2 separate regions of the Homo sapiens genome follow, and region 1 is linked to region 2. The links come from fine-mapping of genetic effects on gene expression. A gene starts in region 2. The other region holds a variant in brackets. All regions are shown on one strand. Distances are from middle to middle.

The links. PIP is the estimated chance that this variant, and not a neighbour inherited with it, causes the effect.
Region 1: its variant is fine-mapped to the expression of SRSF7 in visceral fat (GTEx, PIP above 0.99).

Annotation. Positions count from the first base shown.
Region 1 is chr2:38,724,247-38,733,031 of GRCh38, reverse strand. It overlaps GALM (galactose mutarotase), which reads right to left. Exons shown (of 7, transcript NM_138801.3): 5 at 3,335-3,476; 6 at 1,123-1,297. All of the region lies in intron 1 of LOC124905993 (a long non-coding RNA gene), which reads left to right. Among named protein-coding and RNA genes, the nearest start is that of SRSF7, 23 kb to the left of the region's middle. The variant C/A (reference allele first, on the strand shown) is at 4,159.
Region 2 is chr2:38,746,543-38,755,327 of GRCh38, reverse strand. It overlaps SRSF7 (serine and arginine rich splicing factor 7), which reads left to right and starts at 3,967. Exons shown (of 8, transcript NM_001031684.3): 1 at 3,967-4,099; 2 at 5,134-5,314; 3 at 5,623-5,799; 4 at 6,675-6,749; 5 at 7,171-7,281; 6 at 8,581-8,634. The coding sequence starts at 4,072. RefSeq lists enhancers at 1-119, 3,463-3,522 and silencers at 4,383-4,482, 4,693-4,882.

The sequences.
Region 1 (8,785 bases), 22 kb after region 2:
CCGGGCTGGTCTCGAACTCCTGACCTCAAGTGATACACCTGCCTCAGACTCTCAAAGTGCTGGGATTACAGGTGTGAGCCACCGCACCTGGCCCTTTTTTTTTTTTTTTTTTAAAGACAGGGTCTCATTCTGTTGCACAGGCTGGAGTGCAGTGGTGTGATCATGGCTCACTGCAGCCTTGACCTCCCAGGCTCAGGGATCCTCCCACCTCAGCCTCCCAAGTAGCTGGGGCCACAGGTGTGCACTACCACACCTGGCTAATTTTTCTAATAATCTGTAAAGATGGGGTCTCCCTGTGTTGCCCAGGTTAGCCTCAATCTCAGGCTCAAGCAATCCTCCCGCCTCAGCCTCCCAAAGTGCTGGGATTACAGGCATGAGCCACCTTGCCCAGCCCAAGGTGCAAGCTTCTTATTGTGGGCTGGCACTTTCAGGAGTACTGCTCTGGGTAACAACCAGAAAAGAAAGTTATGAGGGAGCACATAGGAGGAGACGATATGGAAGCTCTCCTTAAGTGTGGCTGCAGAAAACGAGAAGGTATTGTTAAGGAGAAACAAACTGGATAAAGGCTTTGAAGGTACAAAATTTCAGCTTTCTTAAAACCATGTAAATCCCATGTTAGTAGCTTGGCTATGGGTTTTCTGTGACTTGCAGAAGAGAATAAGCATGAACTTTTGAGCCGGGCACAGTGGCTCACGCCTATAATCCTAGCACTTTGGGAGGCCAAGGCAGGTGGATCACCTGAGGTCAGGGGTTTTGAGACCAGCCTGGCCAACATGGTGGAACCCTGTCTCTACTAAAAATACAAAAATTAAGCAGGCATGGTGGTAGGCGCCTGTAATCCTAGCTACTTGGAAGGCTGGGGCAGGAGAATCGCTTGGACCCAGGAGGCGGAGGTTGCAGTGAGCTGAGATCGTGCCCAGGAGGCGGAGGTTGCAGTGAGCTGAGATCGTGCCACTGCACTACAGCCTAGGCGACAAGAGTGAGACTCTGTCTCAAAAAACAAACCAAACAAACAAAGCATGAACTTTTGAATCATACAAGCTGATTCGAGTGTAGTGAACTCTGTCGTACAGTGTGACCTTGGACACAACTCTACTCTGAAAAGCCAGCCTGTGGCATTACCTGATTGACTGCATCAGGCCAGTTCTGAGTCTCCAGGCAGAAACCGGAGTGCTTGGGATAGACAGCTCCATTCTTGCCCTTTAATGTGCCATCCAGGAAGTTGCCCGTGTAAAACTGGACCCCGGGCTGGGTGGTGTATACTTCTAGTACCCGCCCGCTTGCAGCATGATGCACCCTGGTAAGAAATACAAACAACATGAGTCCAGGGCAGAAAAGCAGGTGGGGAGGAGTAGAAGCTGGGAAGCGGCTTTGAGACAGGAATCAGACCCAGCCACAGAGCAGGGACAAGATATAAGGAGGAGATGAAGGTAGGAAGAGCATGATGGAAAATTCTTCCAGTCTCAAAGGCAAGGCATGAGCAGGTGGCTTTCAGGATCCTCAGTAGCTTCTTTGGGGCATCACAAAACAGACTCACTCCTGCCAGCTGGGGAGTAGGGAGGAAGGCAGCAGCCAGGTTGGAGAGAGGAAGGTCCTGGAGAGGCTGAGATTCTTTTTTTTTTTTTTTTTTTTTTTGAAATAGAGTCTTTCTCTATTGCCCAGGCTGGAGTGCAGTGGCGCGACCTCGGCTCACTGCAACCTCAGCCTCCCGGGCTCAAGCAATTCTCCCACTTCAGCTCCCCAGTAGCTGGGACTGCAGGTGCGCACTACCATGTCCAGCTAATTTTTGTTTGTTTGTTTGTTTTGAGATGGAGTCTGGCTCTGTCACCCAGGGAGGAGTGCAGTGGTGCGATCTTGGCTCACTGCAACCTCCGCCCCCTTGGTTAAAGCAATTCTCCTGCCTCAGCCTCTAGAGTAGCTGGGATTACAGGTACCTGCCACCACATCCGGCTAATTTTTTGTACTTTTAGTATTGTCGGGGTTTCATCATGTTGGCCCAACTGGTCTTGAACTACTGACCTCAGGTGATCTGACCACCTCAGCCTCCAAAAGTGCTGGGATTACAGGCATGAGAGCCACTGCACCTGGCCTGAGATTCTTTTTTTTTTTTTGAGATGGAGTTTTGCTCTGTTGCCTAGCCTGGAGTGCAGTGGCGTGATCTCGGCTCACTACAACTTCCACCCCCTGGGTTCAAGTGATTCTCCTGCCTCAGCCTCCTGAGTAGCTGAGATTATAGGTGCCCACCACCATGCCTGGCTAATTTTTATATTTTTAGTAGAGACGGCGTTTCACCATGTTGGCGAGGCTGGTCTCAAACTCCTGACCTCAAGTGATCTGCCCACCTCAGCCACCTAAAGTGCTGGGATTACAGGCATGAGCCACCACGCCCAGCCCGGAGAAGGTCTTTGATCTTCTTTCTGTCACTATTTGGTTTGAGTCATTTTTTCTGCTTTATTTAAAAACTGTTGACCGGGTGCAGTGGCTTACACCTGTAATCCCAGCACTTTGGGAGGCCGAGGTGGGTGGATTACAAGGTCAGGAGTTCAAGACCAGCCTGACCAACATTGTGAAACCCCATCTCTACTAAAAATACAAAAATTAGCTGGGCATAGTGGCACGTGCCTGTTATCCCAGCTACTCAGGAGGCTGAGGCAGGAGAATCACTTGAACCCGGGAGGCGGAGGTTGCAGTAAACCTAGATCGCACCACTGCATTCCAGTCTGGGCGACAGAGCAAGACTCCGTCACACACACGCACACACACAAAACTGTTAATTCTGCAAACATTTATTCATTATTTGCTAGTGCCAAGGATGATATTAGGTGTTGGGGTAGAGGTAGGGCTTCACAAAGATGAAATGGCATGAGGAACTGGGATTTGGTGAGAAGGCGAGAGCGTGCACACAAGTGTCTATCGGTCAAGGCTGGAGGCGGTGAGTGCTGCAGGAGATGCCTAGCCTCCAACTGGCCATGGAGTAGGCAGGCATAAGTCACAGATCGAGAAAGCACAAAGGCTCTGGAAGTTCAGTGACAGCCGAGGTGACTTCACTAGGAAGAGTTAAGGCTTCTAACAGAAAATGGGCCTTAAAGAACAGGCAGAGAGGGAGAGAGCGGGTGCCAAGCAGGGGGAATAGGGGTAATGGCAGGTGGGGGACTGGGATAAATTCTACAGAGCTCACCTGTGCCATGGGAGCTTTGAGAAAATATGGGATGTGGTATTGGGTCACTTGTAGCATAGTAAATGCTATTGATATGGCCAGAGGAAAAGCTCCAAAGGAAAATAGGACTTGGTGTCATTTCTTCCTTACAGACTCAGGAAGTGAAAAGTACCTGACCTTGCACAAAAATGCTTTTCTTTAGATCCCTTCAGACAGAAATTGTGGTCAAAACCATTGAGATGGAAGTCCTGCAGGTGTTTTCCAAGCTCCACTGGCTTTCTCAGGTCGAATGCAGTGCCTTGCACTGGGGCAACTTCTCCTGATGGGAAGAGACAGAAAACAAAGGTGATAAATGCCCAAGTCTCATCTTTATATAGAGCCTCCACAAAGGCTCACTGGTTCTACTCTCTCCGCCTTCATTTTAATTTGTTAAGGAGATGGGAGCCCAGATCCTGGGAAACATGCAGAGACCCCATCTCTACCAAAATAATAAAATAAATAAATAAATAAATGTAAAAAATTAGCCAGGCATAGTGATGTGTCCCTGTGGTCTCAGCTACTCAGGAGGCTGAGGCAGGAGGATTGCTTGAGCCCAGGAGGTCGAGGCTACAGTGAACCATGATTGCACCACTGCACTCCAGCATAGGTAACAGAATGAGACTGTCTTAAAAAACAAATATGGAGAGGGTGGGGAAGAGAAAAAAAAAACCCTCAAATAAATAGAGTATATGGGAGTATGGGCTCAGGTTATATGCAAATACTGCACCATTTTATAGAAGGAACTAGAGTATCTAATGATTTAAGTATCAGTAGGGGGTCCTGGAACCAATCCTCCATGGATTCCAAGGGACAATGGAAAATATATACTCATAAATATATAGTAACATATACATAAAAGCCAGAGTTGTTCTAGCTGAATCAAGTACAGGTTCTGAGCAGCGCAGGTGGAAAACCCCAGGATAAGATGATGGCAGAGGTCCACTTCCTCTTAAAATTATGGC[C/A]CACCCAGGAGTAGTAACAGCCAGGTGCTAGAACCTTGTACCAAGTACAGAGAATACCAGTTTCCTCTGTAGCAGGCCAAATCACTCCAGCCATTTTTTCTTGAAGAGGAAAAGAAAAGGGCTCTGTTTCAGAGGCTTAAACAATGTTACGGTTGAGTTTTTGTTTTGTTTTGTTTTGTTTTGTTTTTTGAGATGGAGTCTTGCTCTGTCACCCAGGCTGGAGCGCAGTGGCGCGATCTCAGCTCAGTGCAACCTCCGCCTCCTGGGTTCAAGTGATTCTTCTGTCTCAGCCTCATGAGTAGCTGGGATTACAGGTGCACACCACCATGCTTTTGTATTTTTAGTAGAGACGGGGTTTCACCATGTTGGCCAGGCTGGTCGTGAACTCCTGACAGGTGATCTGCCCACCTCGGCCTCCCAAAGTGCTAGTATTATAGGCGTGAGCCACTGCACCCAGCCAAAAAAAAAGTTTTTTTTTTTTGAGACAGAGTTTTGCTCGTCGCCCAGGCTGGAGTGCAATGGCACAATCTCAGCTCACTGCCACCTCTGCCTCCCAGGTTCAAGTGATTCTCCCACCTCAGCCTCCCAAGTAGCTGGGATTACAGGCACACACCACCACGCCCAGCTAATTTTTGTATTTTTAGTAGAGATGGGGTTTCACCATGTTGGCCAGGCTAGTCTCCAACTCCTGACCTCAGGTGGTCCACCTGCCTTGGCCTCCCAAAGTGCTGGGATTACAGGTGTGAGCCACCACTCCTGGCCTAAAAAGTTTTCTTATAGTCCCAGAGCTGTCTCATATATTTTAAAGGTAAATGCAAATGTTAGGAGGTTAACATACTCTTTTAGGGTGATAATTATTTTTCCCTTTCATGTGGTCAAATGGCAATTTTAGGAACTTGGCTTCCACTGTAATCAGGGGAGAGAAGTAGCATGCAAAGTAGGGCTGAAATCTTAGGAGGCTAAGAAAAAGCAGGAACTTGTACCTTACCATTAAAATAATTTAAAAAGTAAAAGAAGAACCAATTGCCAGTCATTTAAAACATTTGGTTCTGCTTTTGTGGGTTCCTAAATGCTGAGAGAACACACAAATCTATCTGAGTAAAAGAGGACATTTCATTTATTTTTCCTTTTTCTTTTTTTTTTTTTTTTGAGACGTAGTCTCCCTCTGTTGCCTGGGCTGGAGTGCAATGGCCAGTCTAGGCTCACTGCAACCTCTGCCTCCTGGTTCAAGTGATTCTCCTGCCTCAGCCTCCCGAGGAGCTGGGACTACAGGCACGCACCATCATGCCCAGCTAATTTTTGTATTTTTAGTAGAGACGGGGTTTCACCATATTGGCCAGAGTGGTCTCGAACTCCTGACCTCGTGAACCACCTGCCTTGGCCTCCCAAAGGGCTGGGATTACAGGCGTGAACCACTGCACCCGGCCCCATTTCTTTTCTTAAACTCAGAACTGCTGTTCAGAAATGTAGTCTTCCTAGTGCCTGAAGACTGGAGTTCTGAGTTCACATACAGCCTCAGGATGCCTAGGTACGAAGCACTCAAGTGAGACACTGAGGTCCAGGCGATACCATCCTGGTGTGTGGGTGTCCACTGTTTAACCGAGAGAATCTGGGAAGTGCACAAAGGATTCCTTGCTCTTTTTTTTTTTTTTTTTCTTGAGACGGAGTCTCACTCTGTCGCCCAAGCTGGAGTGCAGTGGCTCAACCTTGGCTCACTGCAATCTCTGCCTCCTGGGTTCAAGTGATTCTCCCGCCTCAGCCTCCCAAACAGATGGGATTACAGGGGCACACCACCATGCCCAGCCAATTTTTGTATTTTTTGTAGAGACGGGGTTTCAACATGTTGGCCAGGCTGGTCTCAAACTTCTGACCTCAAGTGACCCACCCACCTTGGCCTCCCAAAGTGCTGGGATTACAGGTGTGATCTGGCCAAATTTTTAAATAGGGAATATTTGCACATGCAACCAATTTTTTTTTAAGACAGAGTTTTGCTCTTGTTGCCCAGGCTGGAGTGCAGTGGCGTGATCTCGGCTCACCACAACCTTGGCCTCCCAGGTTCAAGCGATTCTTCTGCCTCAGCCTCCCAAGTAGCTGGGATTACAGGTGCCTGCCACCACACCCAGCTAATTGTTGTATTTTTAGTAGAGATGGGCTTTCACCGTTTTGGCCAAGCTGGTCTCAGGTGATCTGCCCATCTCGGCCTCCCAAAGTGCTGGGATTATAGGCAGGAGCCACTGAGCCCGGCCGAGACTACTTCGGCTTGCATTTGTCTGGTTTACTTTTGCATTCTTATTCTGAGTCACTTGGTTTGTATACAGCATTGTGTTGGGATTAAATGTGAGAGACTTGGCCAGGCGGGGTGGCTCATGCCTGTAATCCCAGCACGTTGGCAGGCCGAGGCGGGCGGATCACGAGGTCAGGAGATCGAGACCATCCCGGCTAAAACGGTGAAAACCCGTCTCTACTAAAAATACAAAAAATTAGCCGGGCGTAGTGGCGGGCGCCTGTAGTCCCAGCTACTTGGGAGGCTGAGGCAGGAGAATGGCGTGAACCCGGGAGGCGGAGCTTGCAGTGAGCCGAGATCCCGCCACTGCACTCCAGCCTGGGCGACAGAGCGAGACTCCGTCTCAAAAAAAAAAAAAATAAAAAAAAAAAAATAAAGGCACTTTTGTTTCCCAGTAGATGGTGCTAGAGACACAATAGAAAGAGGTTGCTTTACATCCTCTAAACCCTGATCAGTTCTGGCAGAATTCATAGTTGAACTTTTTGGATCTTGAAAGCCAAAGGCCAAATCCTAGATAGCAGTGTGACCCACTTGGGTATGCTTTTGTCCTGCAATGTTTACATGATATACTACCTCCCAGACTTGCATGGTGGCTCATGCCTGTAATCCCAGAGGTTTGGGAGGCTGAGGTGGGCGGATCACTTGAGGTCAGGAGTTTGAGACCAGCCTGGGCAACATGGCGAAACCCCGTCTCTACTAAAAATACAAAAATTAGCCAGGCGTGGTGGCGCATACCTGTAATATCAGCTACTCAGTAGACTGAGGCACAAGAATCGCTTGAACCCGGGAGATGGAGGTTGTGGTGAGCCAAGATTTCACCACTGCACTCCAGACAGAGTGAGACTCTGTCTCAAAAAAACAAAACAAAACAAAACAAAAAAAAGAAAAGAAATGAAAAGAAAAAGGCAACAATAATTCTTCTTTTTCTTTTTTAAAGACAGGGTCCTGCTATGCTCAAGTGATCCTCCTGCCTCAGCCTCCTGAGTAGCTAGGACTACAGGTGTATGCCCAATTATATATATACGTGTGTGTGTGTGTGTATGTGTGTGTTTAAGAGCGAGGGTCTCGTTCTGTTACCCAGGCTGTAGTGCAGTGGCATGATCACAGCTCAATGCAGCCTCGACCTGCCAGGCTCAGGTAATCCTCCTGTCTCAGCTTCCTGAGTAGCTGGGACCCCAGGCATGTACCAGCACCCCTGGCTAATTTTTAAATTATTTGAAGAGATGGGGGTCTCACTTTGTTGCGCAGGCTGGTTTCAAACTCCTGGGCTCAAGCAATCCTCCTGCCTCAGCCTCCCAAAGTACTGGGTTTACAAGCATGAGCCACCATGCTCAGCAATTCTTCATGAAACAATTAGACTTGGAAAAAAAAGCAGGTATTCTCATGGGCTCAGGAAGATTTTAGTCTTACCAACCTATATTCTGAGTGGTAACTTATGCTTTCTTCTATAACTTTAAATGGTGTTACAATATTTAATTCTTCCTTAAAGCCACAGTCAACTCAAAATCTAACCCTTATGACAGTCCTAGTGTGATCGACTCAGGTCAATCAAAATTGCTTATAATTATCTCCCTTAAAGTATAACTACAGGTAGAAGGCTTGAAGAAACAAAGAAAGCTACAAAATTTTTGTGAAGGAAAGACAGAGGGCATACATCAGGTCTCTTTCCTGTTACCAAGCAATCTACAAATCAGTGTTTGCTTCAGCTCTTCCCTCTGTAAAACGAAGCTGTTATTAGCTGCCACATTACATGGAAATATTTGATAAATGGTATGCTTGAACACCTTCAGGAGTCTGGCATAAATAAATATATATAACAGGGCCAAATTTCAGGCTACCATATAGAACACAGAGCAGAGGGCACAGAGGGTAAGACTTTAAGCATGACAAAGAAGCCCTGACTTAAAATTAGAAAACTGGGACAATTCTAAAATGATGAAATTTTTGGTAAATGAGAAGAAAAAAACAGTGAAGGCTCCAATCTATCTTGTCCATCCTCATGCACTGACACACTTGGTCATGTGCTTAATGATCAAGTATATGGAAAATGTGGAATTTGTCCCCCAGATTCGCCATGTCTCTGGGCCCTTTCTCATAACTAGAATGAATGTTCCTTCTGGGTCCCCTATGCCCACCACAGTCTGGCAAAGTCCAATTGATCGTTCAAGAATATTCTCTAACATAATTTCTTCTTGTGAAATATTCTAACCTCTATAGCCAGGACCAATCTTTTTTTTCTTTGTTCTCATTATACTTAGAATAGACTTTTCTCAAAACGTTCATCATATTATGACATAATTACAGGATTTGTCAAAGTCAAATAAAATATAGAGATGAATCTCT
Region 2 (8,785 bases):
TGTCCTATGACCCTGCCAAATGCCCCTCTGTGAGAAACACCCAAGAATGATCAATTAAAAAAAAAAAAAAAAAAGAATAGACTATAGGCCAGGCATGGTGGCTCACACCTGTAATCCCAGCACTTTGGGATGCCAAGTTGGGTGGATCACTTTAGGTCGGGAGTTCGAGACCGGCCTGGCCAAGATGGCGAGACCCCGTCTCTACTAATATTACAAAGATTAGCTGGGCATGGTGGCTCATGCCTATAATACTTTGGAGGCTGGGGCACAAGAATCACTTGAACCTGGGAGGCAGAGGTTGTAGTGAGCCAAGATCGTGCCACTGCACTCCAGCCTGGGCGACAGAGCAAGACTCTGTCTCAAAAAATAAAATTAAAAAAAAAAAAAGACTAGTATTTTTTAGCATAGACTACTTATTTATATTAAAAATAGAATATTGGTGTGGCAGAGGGGGAAGTTGGGGTCCAGGAGGCGGAGTCTGAGGTCTGCCCACTTCTTGCCCTGCCTTAAAAACAAAAAAACAAACAAAATAGACTAATGTGCAAAACATTTAAATTTTTTTTCCTTTCTTGTTTTAACGTTTTCACATCCAAGCTCAAATGGTGATAATGACTTAAAAGTGAAACTGAAATGGTGAGAGAAGTACGATTAAAAAGGGAACTTTTTCTTTAATATTTATCTGGAAATACCAAATGTAGAAAATGCAGATACATTTTGAAAACTGCTGTAAAAGGCTTATGAATTACTCCCCTTTCCTAAACTAATAATATTTTTAAAATTTAACAATAGTAACATGTTAATAACTAATATTTCATATTAGGAAATATTACAATATTTGAAGAAAGTAGTTTTCATATTCAAACAATCTGAGAATGTAATCTAAATTTAACAGATTTCTAGAGGCAGAAACTTATGTGGGTGAATGTGATTTCAACAAGAATCAGCAGGAATAAAAGTTCTCTGCACAGTAAAATCTCCCTGATTTGGACTGACATTTAGTGAAAAGAATTGGTTGCCTGTTCTTAGAGAAAGAGTGTTCAGTAGAAAGTAGAATAGTCTATGGAAATAGTATACAGTACTATTATTTTTTCATGGTAACCAGATTAACAAAGCCTGGCCTTGTACTGGCCCTGCTTTCATAGGAATAAACAGTATGTAATTAGCTTATTGAACACCTGTCTGCAAGACAAGCATGTCTGTGAATCAGGATTTGAAAGCAATTGGTTATAAATTTTAAAACTGCTTCTGTTTACTATTACTTGCTTAGAAATTTCTTTAGTACAACTATAGACTTTGTTTTGTTTTGTTGGTAGAGATGGGGGTCTGGTTCTGTTGCCCAGGCTGGTCTCAAAGTCCTGGCCTCAAGATATCCTCCCACCTCAACCTCCCAAAGTGCAGAGATTACCGGCATGAGCCACAAAACCTGACTTAGACTTTGTATTCAGAGTCAAAAAAAGTTTATTGGAAAAAAAAAAGTTTATTGAGGTTTATTAGGAATTATACAGTATAACATGCACTGTCTTTCAAGCAGTTATCTATGCTTGGCTCAACAGTAATTTTCTTTTTTTTTGAGTCGGAGTTTTGCTCTTTTGTTTTGGAGATGGAGTTTCACTCTTGTTGCCCAGGCTGGAGTGCAATGGCGCAATCTCGGCTCCCTGCAACCTCCACCTCCCGGGTTCAAGCAATTCTCCTGCCTCAGCCTCCCAAGTAGCTGGGATTACAGGTGCGCACCACCACGCCTGGCTAATTTTTTGTATTTTTAGTAGAGACGGGGGTTTCACCATGGCCAGGCTGGTCTTGAACTTCTGACCTTAGGTGATCCGCCCGCCTCGGCCTCCCAGAGTGCTGGGATTACAGATGTGAGTCACAGCGCCCGGCCTAGGAGTTTTGCTCTTGTTGCTCAGGCTGTAGTGCAATGGCAAGATCTCAGCTCACCACAACCTCCACCTCTCAGGTTCAAGCGATTCTCCTGCCTCAGCCTCCCGAGTAGCTGGGATTACAGGCATGCGCCACCACGCCCAGCTAATTTTGTATTTTTAGTAGAGACGGGGTTCCTCCATGTTGGTCAGGCTGGTCTCGAACTCCTGACCTCAGGTGATCCGCCAGCTTCAGCCTCCCAAAGTGCTGGGATTACAGGCATGAGCCACTGCGCGCGGCCTCAACAGTAATTTTCATAGCTTCTTAACAGAAGAAAGTCAACTTAGTGAGGCTTTACAGAATTTATATTTTATCTTTCAGATACCATATAATCTTTTTTTTTGAGATGGAGTCTTGCTCTGTCGCCCAGGCTGGAGTGCAGTGGCACGATCTCAGCTCACTGCAACCTCCGCCTCCTGGGTTCAAGCAGTTCTCCTGCCTCAGCCTCCGGAGTAGCTGGGACTACAGGCACACGCCACCACGCCAGGCTAATTTTTTGTATTTTAGTAGGGACAGGGTTTTACTGTGTTGCCCAGGCTGGTCTCAAACTCCTGAGCTCAGGCAATCCGCCCGCCTCGGCCTCCCAAAGTGCTGGCATTACAGGCGTGAGCCACTGCGCCTGGCCCCTATATAGTCTTTATAATTATTGTTTAATTCTTTTGAGAAGAACCTATAGATCTTTATAATTATTGTTTCTTTTGAGAAGAACCTTGTTAAGAAAAAAATCACCAAGACTAAGGGAGAACACATATACTCTACAGAGCTTCTATTTTCTTCTTAGAGATCTTCCTGAGAGAGATTAATTCTCTCCATAACTTAATCAACGTAAAAAATATGCATAAAATCATAGCATGACCTGGAAAGAATCCATGCTTTATTCACCAACTAGGCCTGCTTTCCCTGTACTCTCCATTCCACACCTATACTCACCAAATGAAGTTGCAAAAGACGAAAAAGATAAAAATGCAAATACCTAAATGTCTTTTTTTATGTACATTTCCAACTTTTGTGTATTCCAAGAATTTACGATGTAATGTCTATGTTTCTAGCAAAAAAGAACTTTTTCTCTATTTGTAGTTGGTGTCTAGAGCAATTCTAATGTAAAGAAGTTTTGCATTTATTTGGTACTGTTGAGTGGCTGAGCAGCAAGGCTGCTATTTCCACTGAGTGGAGATACACAAAGATGACTTAGGAGTCCCAGTCCTCAGGATCGGAGTATTGGTGGATCACACGTGTTACAAAGCAGAAAGCATTAGGAAAAGCAAATCAGTTACTTTGAGCTTCAGATGCAAATAATTTCCAAATTGTCACTGGCCAAAATGCTTTAAACATTCAGGGTTTTGTCACAATTTCAATATAAAGGGGGGAGGGGGGAGCGGGACCCCACAGCTCTATTCCTTTGTCTTTCAGACTCCAAGAACTCAGACCGTGGTGGTGCAAACTGGTGACTGGTTCAAAAGAAGTTGGAGGGGGCGTGTAGGACAGGAGGCTTTACCACCAGTCCCAGGGTGCGTCAAGGTCTATGGTGTAAAAACCACTACTCAGAATGGCGGGGTTCATGGACTTTTCACCATGGCCAAACCTTCGATTACCTCTGATGAGCCCCAAAGATCAGAGTAGCTGACTAGGCCAGGTCCCCCAGCAGAAGGGCGCGACGGCTGCAACATCAGCGGTTAAATTGTACAGCCTTTCATAGGCCGGTCTAATGCATCCGTACTAAGATTGTTAAGGCTGAGGGTCCCTAGCCTGGGGAAAAACGAAAGGAGGCAGAGGGTAGGGAGACGGGAAAGAAGACAAGGAGGGTGTAGAAAACGGGGAGAGGAGGGGGCGGGACAGCATGGGGAAGGCCTCAGGTTTACTGGAGAGATCGTGGCGTTCCCATAGAAACGTATCCCTCCGCCCATGACCCGCGTGTTAGTCTCTTCAGTTCCTTCCGCGTCGTTTCTTGGCTGTTTCCGCCCAGCTCCTTTGTGCCGCGCAGAACAACGAGATGACGCATGCGCAAAGCGCAGCGGCCGCATATATAAACGCGAACCCGGGCTCTTCCTCGTAGTGCCGCCGGGACTCTTGGCGGGTGAAGGTGTGTGTCAGCTTTTGCGTCACTCGAGCCCTGGGCGCTGCTTGCTAAAGAGCCGAGCACGCGGGTCTGTCATCATGTCGCGTTACGGGCGGTACGGAGGAGGTAAGAAGCTGGAGTCCGGTGAGGGACGTTGGTGTGGGTGTAGTGAGCACTGCGAGGCCGTAGGGTTGTCGCGGAGGTTGGGAGACGGTTATTCCGCGTGCGTAATGGCGGCTTAGGAGCACGCCAGACGAAGCCGGAGGCAGCGGAGGCGGGGTGCTGAAGGGAGACGGGATGGCGGGTGTACATCTCTGCCGAGTTCCGTACTCTTGGGCATTTTTGTGGCCCAATCCAGCCTAAAGCAGGGTTGAGATGACGGTTTTCGCGTTGCCTTTCTCGGAGCTGCCCGCCGGCCCCCCTCCCCCCCCGCCCTCGGCGGCGGCTGCCATTTTGCGCACATTGAGGACCGTGGTGGCGCATTTCCTCAGCGCTTTCCCGCCACTTCAGCGGACAGATCTGGCCGCAGCTGTAAGATCGTGGTTGTGTTTGAGATAGAACGAAATTGGCAGCTGTGAGCTGCATGTTCTCGTCAAACAATCGGTTAAATTGCGGAATGGGAATGGGGACGTAATCTGCGACTGGCGGCTGGGTTTTTTTTAGTTATTTCCAGCGCGGTTTATGGCTCTGGGGCGGGGAGCTGGAGTCTTGGGCGAGCCTGTGCCTGGGACGTTTGCCGCGGAGGACGAGAGCCGGCGCAGCCCTGCTCTCCTGGCCCGGCCCCTACCGAGGCCCTCCCGCCGCCGACGCCGCTGCCGCTGCGGGCCCGCGCGCTCCCGGTGCGCCCGGGGCTGCCGGGACTCATGGGTGGGGCCGGGCCAGGTTCCGCCCCACGCCTCGGTGTATCCTACCACGCGTTTCTGCTTGTGTTCGGGAGGGTCACCCCGCATTATTTAGAACGTTAAGAATTTTGTCAAAAGTCTAGTTTCTCAGGGATTTGCGGACTTTCACCAGTTTTACGACTAAGTTTTGTCTTGGATAGAGGGCATTAAATGTGCTTTACCCAATCTTGAGGATGGCCCGTTTTAAGGCAAATAAGTAATTGAAACTTGGGCCAGATTTTGCGTAACGTGCATTCTTCTATTTGCGTTTTTAAACAGAAACCAAGGTGTATGTTGGTAACCTGGGAACTGGCGCTGGCAAAGGAGAGTTAGAAAGGGCTTTCAGTTATTATGGTCCTTTAAGAACTGTATGGATTGCGAGAAATCCTCCAGGATTTGCCTTTGTGGAATTCGAAGATCCTAGAGATGCAGAAGATGCAGTACGAGGACTGGATGGAAAGTAAGTAAGATGTTATGAATCTTCTGTTCATTAAAATATACTGTGGCTAGATAATGAACTTAGTGCTAAATTTGGATTCTGAAGTCTGGAAGAGACCTTAAATAGCTGGTCATAGTGTTAAATGCTAAAGGCACACGAAGGTTAAAGAAGATAGCGGAGATGGAGTTAGGGCTTGGTAAAGACCGCCAAAGTTTGTTGGGGGGGAAGGAGTGGTTGGAAAGAGTGAGTGGTTGGAAAGAGTTCTTTTTAAATCTATAAGTCCTGAATATATTTTTAACTTTAGAATTTTGTTAATTTGCTTTTATTAGGGTGATTTGTGGCTCCCGAGTGAGGGTTGAACTATCGACAGGCATGCCTCGGAGATCACGTTTTGATAGACCACCTGCCCGACGTCCCTTTGATCCAAATGATAGATGCTATGAGTGTGGCGAAAAGGGACATTATGCTTATGATTGTCATCGTTACAGCCGGCGAAGAAGAAGCAGGTATTTATTTTAATAAAGGAATGGTTGGTATTCTAGTTAATCAAGTAATTCTTTTATTAGCAAGGCAGAAACTAGTGTTTTTCTATAAACTTGAATGTTAATTGTACAGGTGTATTTTACAATTTTTGTTTAATTAAAAAAATGTTACTATATTAATAATCAACCTGGTCAAAACCTTTCAGGTTTCTTCGTTTGAGTCAGTCGCCTTGATTCAGAATGTCACGAGCCTTATGATATCATGCTGAGGCGCCTTGCAAATCCGACAATTAAGATCCTCCTAGACCTTGAGGTGATCAGCATAAGAGGCCAGATCCCCTCGAGTCATCTACACCTAGCTTCACCTTATTCTTTAAAGGGCAGAAAATTTGAGACGGTGATCGCCGTAACAGTAAATTTGGCTTACAATTGGGGCCCCCCTCCGGTTTAGAAAGAGGAACACCAGATTGACCACATTCCCAACTAGAAAAATCTTCTTGCGTCAATCAAGCCTCACCTGGCTCATTTGGCTGTCAGTTTGATCGTCGTTAGATTGAAGAAAACATCTAGATGCAGCGATCGGCTATAGATACTTCTAGATCGTCTAGATCTACTAGACCATGGGCCAAAGAGGGTCGACCTGCAAACTTGCAAGGTTTATTTTAAATACACATTACAGTGTTTTATATTATGTAATGCTAAGTTGTAATTCAGCTTTTAACAAATCTTTTTTTAGGTAGTAAAAAAAAAAATACTCAACAACTAATAGGCCCAGAGTTTATTTCCAAATGAGACACTAAATTTAAATAGTTTTGAGATTTGATTTCAGCAGAGGCACACAAACTCTTAAAAACGAGTTATTGTCTGACATTTTGTTTTTTCTCTAACTTGAAAAATAGGTCACGGTCTAGATCACATTCTCGATCCAGAGGAAGGCGATACTCTCGCTCACGCAGCAGGAGCAGGGGACGAAGGTGAGATCTTGTTTAACTGAAGTCTTTCTGTATTATTATTAAATTCACTGGTAGTCCAACACAGAAAAAGCTCATTATTTTTTTTGGAGACAGGGTCTTGCTCTGTCACCCGGGCTGGAGTACAGGGGCATAACCACGACTCACTGCTGCCTTGATGATCTCTTGGGTTTAAGCAGTTCTCCTACCTCAGCCTCCCGAGTAGCTGGGACTGTAGGCACTGCCACCATACCCAGCTAATTTTTATTTTTGTAGAAATGGTCTTGCACTGTTTCCCAGGCTGGTCTCAAGCTCCTGGGCTCAAACGATCCTCCCGCAGTGCTGGGATTATGGGCATGAGCCACTGCACCGTTCCCCAGTTGAAGTCTTAACAGGCCAAAAAAAAAAAAAACTGTGGAGATGGACTTAAAGTTCTTTATTTTAGGTCAAGGTCAGCATCTCCTCGACGATCAAGATCTATCTCTCTTCGTAGATCAAGATCAGCTTCACTCAGAAGATCTAGGTCTGGTTCTATAAAAGGATCGAGGTATTTCCAGTATGTAACACTTTTTTTCCTTACTTGTGTTTGGATTGTTCACATCTTATCAGTAGAGTGTCTTAAGGACATAATTCAAATGGATTGCTTCAGGGAATATTTGAGATGTAAAAGTTTGGAATTTATGTGTAACTTGTAACATAAATATTAACCTAGTTTTACAGATGAAGAAAAGGGCTACTAGAGATTTTAAGGCTTGTTAGGCCGTGTGGTAGACAAGGGTCCCAAGCAATACAGTTCTACTCAACACTCTGGGTAGGCATGTTGCTATAAACTTTTCTGGCTTCAGATTGGATGATACTAGCTCTGAAAGATGGTAATTGATTTTCCCGACAAAAAGGCCTATTAGCACCAGGAAAAGAGATCAGAAGCAAGTAGAAACATTTCTCATTTTTGGAATGATGGGGTTGATTTGAGACACTGGAAAGTTGACTAGGGCAGTAGTGTGTACACAGAAATGAATGTGGATTTTTTTTTTTAGACCGTTTCAGACCTGAAAAAACTAAAGAACCAGAGCTTTACTATTTGTAGAAGGCCTTAAAAGGAGATAGAATGGAAAAAATTGTAAAATAAGTATTGCAACATGTAATTAACAATATTGTTATCTGTACCAACGATAAAACCGTGGTACGGAATGCTACTGGGAGTTAAATTGCTGTTTAATAGCACAAAACCTTTAAATGCAGGAATTCTGAATCTTGTGGTCTATTTGAGAAAGCTATGAACCATCTCTTTAGATAAATTTAAAAGATAGATATGTCAGTCTGATTTGGTTTGTCTGACAGATTGATGGCTCTCAAACATAACTTGATCCAGGAATAAAGCCTTACAAATGGGGGGCGGCTTTCTTTTCGTCTGGCCTTATCACCTGAATTAGTCTCAGTTCAGGGGTCTGGTTATTTTCATCCTGCCTTAGCCTCCTGAGTAGCTGGGACTGCCATTGTGTACCACAGTGCCCAGCTGAGGGATCTGTGCCTTAAGTGAGGTTAGTTTTGCTTCCTTCATACCAGTCTCATCAAATGAAAACCATGTATTTCCCTTGGATATTACACAGTGTTTGAGAATGTTATACCTGTACAGAAACTAACCAATTGAGTGATAGAAACAAGTAATTGAAATGGGGGTTCCTTATGTCTGGTAACACTTTGTTTGACAGTGTGTTAGACAGAATAAGGCAAGTGTTGCATCTTGTTTAGTTTTAGCTTCTTTATGCCTGACCAACCTAATACAGTGTTGAGTAGTTAAGGAAATTCCTTTGGACTGATTGATATAATTGTGTTTTTCACTTTTTTTATTAAGATCCCCGTCGAGGTCAAGATCAAGATCCAGGTCTATTTCACGACCAAGAAGCAGGTAGGGTAAAAATTTGATTATGCTTTTCTAGTTATATGGCACCAATATCCAAAGAGTTCAAAGTGTTTTTAATTGTTGAAATTTTAAGTGTTAACTCTAAACTTAGGTTTTAGTGGGAACACAGTACCTTATTTGTGTATGTCCTATTTAT